Regions from separate parts of the Homo sapiens genome. Here region 2 is linked to region 1. Evidence: fine-mapped expression QTL. Tissue or cell type: prefrontal cortex. Region 1 holds a variant in brackets; the other region holds the start of a gene. All regions are shown on one strand. Distances are from middle to middle. Region 1 overlaps EXOC6 (exocyst complex component 6). Region 2 holds the start of CYP26C1 (cytochrome P450 family 26 subfamily C member 1).

What was found. PIP is the estimated chance that this variant, and not a neighbour inherited with it, causes the effect.
Region 2: CYP26C1 starts here. The variant in region 1 is the best candidate, but not a certain one, in a credible set for the expression of CYP26C1 in prefrontal cortex (CommonMind, PIP 0.51).

What each region holds. Positions count from the first base shown.
Region 1 is chr10:93,016,584-93,020,980 of GRCh38, forward strand. The region is part of intron 20 of EXOC6 (exocyst complex component 6); the gene reads left to right. Among named protein-coding and RNA genes, the nearest start is that of CYP26C1, 42 kb to the right of the region's middle. The variant CT/C (reference allele first, on the strand shown) is at 2,030.
Region 2 is chr10:93,058,062-93,062,458 of GRCh38, forward strand. CYP26C1 (cytochrome P450 family 26 subfamily C member 1) reads left to right here and starts at 2,737. Exons shown (of 6, transcript NM_183374.3): 1 at 2,737-3,406; 2 at 3,949-4,173. The coding sequence starts at 3,203. EXOC6 (exocyst complex component 6) reads left to right here. Exons shown (of 22, transcript NM_019053.6): 22 at 162-1,429. The coding sequence ends at 294. RefSeq lists an enhancer at 2,755-3,664.

The DNA of each region.
Region 1 (4,397 bases):
TAGGGCTTATTCGATATAAGAAAATCATGTGAGAAACATTGTCAAATAAGAAATGGTATTTAACTTGCTTTGAATTATATTTATACAAATATTCATGTGTTCCAAAATTATATTGGATTCCTGAAATTCTGATGTCTTGATATATGTTATCAGTCATAATTATTATGTTATTATATGTCACAAAAATAACAAAATTCCCTTGTCAATTGGTGTCTTTTACCATGGCTATTTTCTTTTTTTTTTTTTGAGATGGCGTCTCGCTCTTGTCACCAAAGCTGGAGTGCAGTGGCGCGATCTTGGCTCACTGCAAACTCCGCCTCCTGGGTTCAAGCAATTCTCCTGCCTCAGCCTCCCAAGTAGCTGGGACTACAGGCGTGTGCCACCAAGCCCAGCTAATTTTTTTTGTATTTTTAGTAGAGGTGGGGTTTCGCCGGGTTGGCCAGGCTGGTCTCAAACTCCTGACCTCAGGTGATTCACTTGCCTTGGCCTCCCAAAGTGTTGGGATTACAGGTGTGAGCCACTGCACTCAGCCTAACCATGGCTATTCTAAGTCTTTTGTCATCTACAGAATATTAATTGTTTTTCTTGATTCTCCTCAAAAAGCAGTTTACAATTGGCTACAGTCCAAAATTTGCTTCTTGGCATACAGAGTTATATAATGGACTCCAGAGACTCAAAAGGGGGAGGGTGGGAGAAGGGATGAGAGATAAAAACTACATATTGGGGGCTGGGCACGGTGGCTCACACCTGTAATCCCAGCACTTTGGAAGGCTGAGGCGGGTGGATCATGAGGTCAGGAGATAGAAACCATCCTGGCCAACACGGTGAAACCCTGTCTCTTCTAAAATACAAAAAATTAACCAGGCATGGTGGCAGGTTCCTGTAATCCCAGCTACTTGGGGGGCTGCGGCAGGGGAATCGCTTGAACCTGGGGAGATGGAGGTTGCAGTGAGCCAAGATCATGCCATTGCACCCCAGCCTGGCGACAGAGCAAGACTCTGTCTCAAACAAACAAACACTACATATTGGGTACAATGTATACTACTTGGATGATGAATACACTAAAATCTCAGACTTCACCACTATACGATTCATCCATGTAACCAAAACCACTTATATTTCAAAAGCTATTGAAATAAAATAAAAGGCTGGGCGTGGTGGCTCATGCCTGTAATCCCAGCACTTTGGGAGGCTGAGGTGGGCGGATCATGAGGTCAGAAGGTCGAGACCGTCCTGGCTAACACAGTGAAACCCCGTCTCTACTAAAAATGCAAAAATTAGCTGGGCGTGGTGGTGCACACCTGTAATCCCAGTTACTCAGGAGTCTGAGGCAGGGGAATCACTTGAACTTGGGAGGCAGAGGTTGCAGTGAGCCGAGATTGTGCCATTGCACTCCAGCTTGGGCAACAAGAGTGAAACTCTGTCTCAAAAAAAAAAAAAAAGAAATAAAATAAAAATAAAAATTTTAAAAAAGAAATACATTCTTTATGCAGACCATCACATAACCATCTTTGACATAAATCACACCCCCCTATATGTAAAGATTAAATAAGACCTCATAACCAACAGCAATGTACAGACCATGTTTACATCTTAATTTGAACAAACCAGTTATAAAAAAAAGGGAGGGGGCAGGTTTGAGATAATCAGGGAAATATGGATATTAGATATTTGGTATTAAATTATTTTTAAAAGGTATAATAATGACATGGTGAATATGTTTTTTAAATGCCTTACTAGAGGCATAATAAAATATTATAGGTAAAATGAAAAAGTACACGTACATAAGTTATACATGTTTTCAAAAAAACATTAGAATATACAAAAAAGTAGAAAAATTTACTCATAGTCTTTCTACCCAAACACATCATTATTGGCATTCTGTTTTATTTCCTGCTGGTCTTTTTCCATTAATTTTTTTCCTCATCCATGCTCCTACCCTTACCAAAATATGATTGCTGGCATACTGTCCTCACAATTCCTTCTTTGTATTTCAGATAGTGTTTGCCTCTTAAATCTTAAAAAGGAA[CT/C]TTTTTTTTTTTTACCAGATATTTCAGAGCCATAAAACTCAAATATAATGTGTGTAACTTGTTTTGATCCCAATTCAGACAAATCAGTGGGAGAAAGCAGGGAAATGTATTCTGTGGTTTGTTTTAAAATACTTTAAAAAGAAAAATTATTGATAGTAGCTGAATCTGGGAGGTGAGGATGATGGGTTTATTGTGCTATTTACTTTCATATATGTTTGAAATTTTTCATAATAAAAATAAAAATATTAAATTAAAAAAATAAAAGACCCTGACAAATGCTCTTACATACAGGTGTCTGGTGACTTTGGAAATCATACCACTGGACTAGGTAAAAAAACTTCCAGGACTCTAATTAAAAAGCTGATACATTCATAAAGATTGCTAACCCAACATCAAGCAAAACAAGAATTACATGGAACTGAACTGATGGTGGACTAAAATAATTTATTATTATTTTATTTTTAAATGTTAATCTATGTATTTATTTATTGATTGATTTATTTATTTTGAGACCAGATTATGAGACTGGCTAGTTTTTGTATTTTTGGTAAAGATGGAGTTTCACCATGTTGCCCAGGCTAATCTTGAACTCCAGGGCTCAAGCAATCCACCCGCCTCGGCCTCCCAAAGTGCTGGGATTACAGGCGTGAGCCACCACACTTGGCCCAAAATGATTTTTTGTTGACTTTTTATTTAAAACATTGCTGATTCTTTCTATGTTTTGTTTTCCAGAGCCAAGAAAATTTTTTCTTCTAAGCTATTCATAACTTACAGCAATTAGTTAAAATATACTTATGAACAAAATCAAAACATTTACTTTTCTCTCTAGATGATTTCTCCAGAATTTAGAAACTATCCATAAATATTCTAGTTTTATGACAATCTAATTATTTACATAAGTTCCATAAGAATCTTTTCTTTTGTAACAGGACACATTGAAAACACTGGTTATTTTACCAAGGATTTGACTAAAATGTCATGTTTTCATATATGACCAGACTGCTTTGAGGGATTGAGGTTGACTTTATAAAGCCAATAAAGTTTAAAAACAAAAAAACAAAAAAGAGACTGGCCCTGTACCCTATCCACACAGTTCCCTTATAAGGTTCCTGACCTTGGGATAAGTAAAAAATGTCACTTTCTGGCAGGCCTGAGAACCTCAAGATACTTCAAGGACCTCGAAAAGTGAAAATTTCACCCAGTTCATACCGATATTAGAGGCACAGTCTGATGGCAAATGCTCAGCTTGCTTTCCTACCCTTGAGGCTTTTAAAAGTCTAATCCAAAATTCCTTATTAAAAGTTCCAGTGAAGTCCGTTTTTAAAAAGTCCATATGGTGAATCACTATTCTTGCTGCACTATACAAATAATCAGGCCAAATATGGTAAGACTAAAATTTATTTTACAAATAAATTGGTCCTAGTATAATTTGTATTTGATTTTTTTAAAAGGGGGACTAGAAAAAATACATATTAAAGGAAAAACCATAGTATACATGTATTAGATTCTAGCCTTGTCCATTATTTTTGAGTTTTTATTATTTGCCTGCAATTTAGAACAAATCCTAAATTCTTTTTTAGCTACAAGTCTCCAAACTAATGTTTTCACATTTTTCTCACTTAAAATCACTAAAAATTAAAACTGCTTTTCTTAAAGCCCTAAAGCTAGAACTTAATATAAACTTCAACAAAAATCACCAGAGCAACTTACATATTAACAGCCTTTATGCCTACAGATATATGGACTGTGCAAAAAGTTTGCTTGAATACCTGATTCAAACCATAATAATAATAATAATAATAAATGTGTCAGATTGCCACTGCAACCTGAAGATGCTTCAGAGACTCCAATAATTAGCTTATAGACTACTCCAGACATGGACCATTGTTTTTCTTCTGTTTCTGTAGAGATGCCTCTTATTAAAAATATGTTTGCCTACCTTACATATAGAGGCCTAGCTTCGAGGGCCCATCTGCAATGCTGTCTTCTAAAATAAGACACAGCTGTTTAATTGGACTGGCCTATTCCCCAAAATAAGAGACTGATTTGATGAGATCTTTTGCCATTGAGTTACTAACTTGATTTGTCTTTTCACAGCCACTAACTCAGCTTTTAATATGTGAAACTTCTAGGGAAGTTTTAGACAGGGAAATGTTGGGGCTCAGAAACCAGTACTCTAAAATACAGTGCTTTGACATGCTGAACGGAAGAAGCAGCACTGAGGTCTCTCTGGCCTCTTTCCCACCCCCGCCCACTGCCCCACCATCTCTCAATACTTTGTCTCTCCCAAAGTACAGGATAAAGTTGTTCTCTAAAATTCCCTCATCTGCTTGAAGTTTGGACCTGTCAAGGAAGAAAACGGTTACC
Region 2 (4,397 bases), 41 kb after region 1:
ACTATATCTGTATGTTTATTTAGTATCTACTTTCTTTGAACTATATTTTTCAAGCATAGGATTAGTGTGGGATAATTCAGAGCATGCCAAGATATTTTACTTGTGACAGCTTAGCTTTTAATTTTCTTTTACCAAGCTTCTTCATTCACATATGTTTCTAGGATGAAGGATACTAGCAAAAAGAACAATATATTTGCTCAGTTCAGGAAGAATGATCGAGACAAACAGAAGTTGATAGAGACAGTCGTGAAACAGCTGAGAAGTTTGGTGAATGGTATGTCCCAGCACATGTAGACCTCACATGGCTTGCACTCAGTGACACCAAATCCATGATTCAATGTTGATCTTGAGCAAGTATTGGTCATGATACAGTAATTTGTTTACAGAATCCAAAAATACAATAGAGAAGATACATGAGGGCTTAAACAAGAAATAGTAATAAATATCATTTGTATGGATTTTTAAATAATCGAATACTATTTTATATATGGAAAAAAATGACCATTTTTTCACTTTTAGGGGAAAATGCAAAAGTGTAATACATAAATTGTCACAAATTATACATGAAATTGATTACAAATACATTTGAAAAACATATGCCTCTACTCATAAGTATTTTTTTCTATTTAGACTTGAATGATAATCTGTTTTTTGATCAGTATATGGCTTTGGAATTCAATCATGTCTGATATGGTAGTATTTCACTACCATTTTCTGACTTTTAGCTTTTATTTTCACCTCAATGTGATTTAAGCAGACCAAAATTTCTAATTCTGCTAATTCTGAAGGGGAAATAGACAAATCTTAAAAGCTGCCTGAAATCAAACTTGATTTAACTCAGTAAGAATGTGAATTATTTGTTCTACTTGGGTGGTTTAATTTAATCGTTCTGAATATGAACAAAAGGTTTTGGATTTTCTAAAGATGCAGTGTTGTTTCTGTTCATCAGGGTTAATATTTCTAACTATATTGCTTGTAGGTGACCCCATTCTGGATTTGTTTGGTTTGGTTTGGTTCCAGTTAAAAGAGAGGACAGGAACTAAATGGGGCTAACCACTTCAGGTGCAGCTTGTGCGAGGGTAGATGGTTCCTGCACACAGAAGTTACCACAGGGGTCAGGTTACTTTCTTCAAATAGCAGATTTCAGTACTTTATCCTCATTGTGGAAACAAGCCAAACCAAATGAACTCTGGAAAACCTAAAACAAATGTACATTTTCCTTTGTGTATGTTTCCGTGGTCCAAATGGCAATATAAATCCAGTCTTTATTCTCCCTTTGTTGTATTTATGCTGAATCTTCCCTTTGCCTTTTCAGGATTTAGGCCTGTAAGAAACTATGCCTGATTCTGTAAAATAAGTGTAAAGAATTATATGTACATCTCTGGATTTTGTGATGAAATATTAAAAATATTGAGCAAGTTGTTGAAAATGCATTACTATTTTGTCTATTCAGAGCTTACTGATTTAAAACAAGTGCTTCCTGGAGAAAAGGCATATTATTTCCTAGTTACTGGAATGGGAGTGGCACCAAAACAGTATATATACATACACACACACACACACACACATATATATACATATGCGCACTTGTTCTCTCGATCATCTCTTAATCCAAAGTATTTAATGTTTTTAAAAATATTACATGAAAAGCATGGTAGTTCTTCAGGCACGGTGAAATCTGGAGGAGAGGAGCGGTGAACAGCTAGCTCTCTTTGAAGACTGGAATGGGGCTGCCCTTCGCGCCTTACCCAGCCTTCCAGCGTACTTGGGGTGTCTTCCCTGCTTTGGCTGAGACGTCCCGGGATTCAGAGAGATACTGCCTTTGCACTGCCTGGAGGAGACCACTGTGGGACCTCTTTACTCTTACCAATAATATAAACACCCTGCACCCCTCCACACACACCCCAGGTTGCACTGTAGGGACAAGAACGAGTGAGTCCTGAGGCATTTGGAACCCTTGAATGGGACGCACAAAGCCCAAAACGCAACAATGTAGATTGACAAGAGTCGTCGGGCAAACTCGGGGGAGGGAGGGAAGGATGTGCAGGGAAGGATGAATTCGGTCCTTGAGACCGGAAAGGTGCTCGTGGGTATCCGCTTCTGGAGGCTTAGGACGTCTTTATGAAGCCTAGGGCAGTAGTGGAACTGCCATCTTTGGAAGGATACCTGACGTGGTAGATCAGAGAGCCGGGAGAGGTGGGGAGCTGTCGGAGAATCTCGGCTGCGCTATCCCTCCTGGGCTTTTGCGATGCCAACGCAGGCGTCGACGACTGCAGTTTCCCTGAAATAGTCGGAGCAAAGGAGAGAAAAGCCCAGTTCTTTCACCTTGGAGTGGCGAGAGAAAGGCACCTAGAAGCTCGAGGGCGGGGACGGCAGAGGGAGCCAGCGGCCGGGGGTGGGCCAGGAGCACTGCGGGGCGCAAGCCCGGGTCAGTTCTGCGCGTTGGGTTCGCCCACTTTCTGAGCGCCTGCGAAGAGCGGGGAAGCTCTGGCGCGAACCCGCAGGCCCCGCCCGAGGACGCTCGCGGGGCGAGCCCCCAGCCCAGCTCGAGCCGCCCCGGCGCCTGCCACTCCCTACTCAGAGCCCCTCCGTGAGCGCGCCGCTGCCCACCGCCTCCAATCACCACTCTGCGTGGAGCGCTTTAAATATGCAAAGACACGTCACGTTGTGTGAACCGGGATCGGTCCGTAGGGGGGGAGCCAATATCTATATAAACGTGTCCAGCGTGGGCCAAGAAGGGTTAAACGACTGGAGGAGGGACAGGTGGGGCGGGGGTCTGCAGACCAGGTTGGCAACACTGGTGAGTTGCTCTTCTTTCGCCCTCCTTCCCTTCTTCTATCCAAAGGGTGCTGAGCCCGGGAGGAGGTGGGAGGTGCCCCGCGGAGCCGGGAGTGAGCGTTCCCGAGGCAGCAGGCACCTTCGAGAGGGACTGGCATTTGGGCCCAGGAGCCAGGAAAAAGTCCTGAGCGTGCCGGCCTCGAGGAAGGCACGTTCCCTAAGGGCGCACGGTCACTGCAGTCTTTCACCGTCCGTCTGTTTTTAGAACAGAGTTCTGGCCTGAGCTTATAAATCTCGGGCTTTGCCCCCAAACCCCAGGCCTTTTGCGGACGGAACAGGTGAGCACTGCGCACTGCTCGCGCCCCGGTTCTTGCGTCCCCTGCTCTCCCTGCGCTCTGAGCGGCCTGGCCCCCGCGGGCTCATCATGTTCCCTTGGGGGCTGAGCTGCCTGTCAGTGCTGGGGGCGGCGGGCACTGCTCTCCTGTGCGCGGGCCTGCTGCTCAGCCTGGCCCAGCACCTCTGGACCCTCCGCTGGATGCTGAGCCGGGACCGGGCCTCCACCCTGCCTCTGCCCAAGGGCTCCATGGGGTGGCCCTTCTTCGGCGAAACGCTGCACTGGTTAGTTCAGGTGAGCAGTCCTTCGACCCCGAGCGCTAATACGGTCCCTTCTTCCCCCGGCTCCCACTGGACCCTCCTCAGTCTCAATGCCCATGGGATTTGTAGCCAGTCCCTGCCCATCGCCCACGACCCCGGGAAGCGCGCACAACTCTCGCCTTTACCTAGATACTCCGTTCCCTCGAAGGGACCTCAAGTCACTGGAATTCCCCCCAGAGCAACTCCCAGACACAACGCAGGGGGTAAACATAAGGGGTTTTAGGAAGGGGTCTGAGGAGCACGTCCTGCAAGGGTAGAAAAGGAGCCTGGAGCTTGGCCCAGCTGTGAGCCCTTGGGCCCTCACTTCTTCACTCTGAGTCTGTTTCCTCATCTCACCAATAGGAACAGGAGCATGTACATTCCCGTAGAGTAGATACCAGGCCCACTGGGGATCTTGTTTTGTAAACGCGCCAGCCAGGGACAGGAAGTTGTGATCAAAAGGCAGCTGGAAGGTCTGGGTCAGATCCCAGCCCAGGCCCAGAAGTTCCAGCTCTCCACCCTCCGCCTCGCCCGCAGGGCTCGCGCTTCCACAGTTCTCGCCGAGAGCGCTATGGGACAGTGTTCAAGACGCACCTGCTGGGCAGGCCAGTGATCCGCGTGAGCGGCGCGGAGAACGTGCGCACCATCCTGCTGGGCGAGCACCGCCTGGTGCGCAGCCAGTGGCCGCAGAGTGCGCACATCCTGCTGGGCTCGCACACACTGCTAGGTGCGGTCGGCGAGCCGCACCGGCGGCGGCGCAAGGTGAGTGGAAACGGGAATGGACCGTAGATACGTCGGATCCGCGGTCCCCGGCATCTGCCATGGGCCAGGCCGGGGCCCCGGTGTTGGATACACTGTGAACCCGACCAAGGTCCCTGGTAACTAGCGGGTGGCCTTGGGCGGGTCCGTTACCTTCAGCTTCGGTTTATAAAGTTAGGACTGCGCTAAAAGATTCTTTCATCTCCCATCTTCCGTGGCTGTGATAG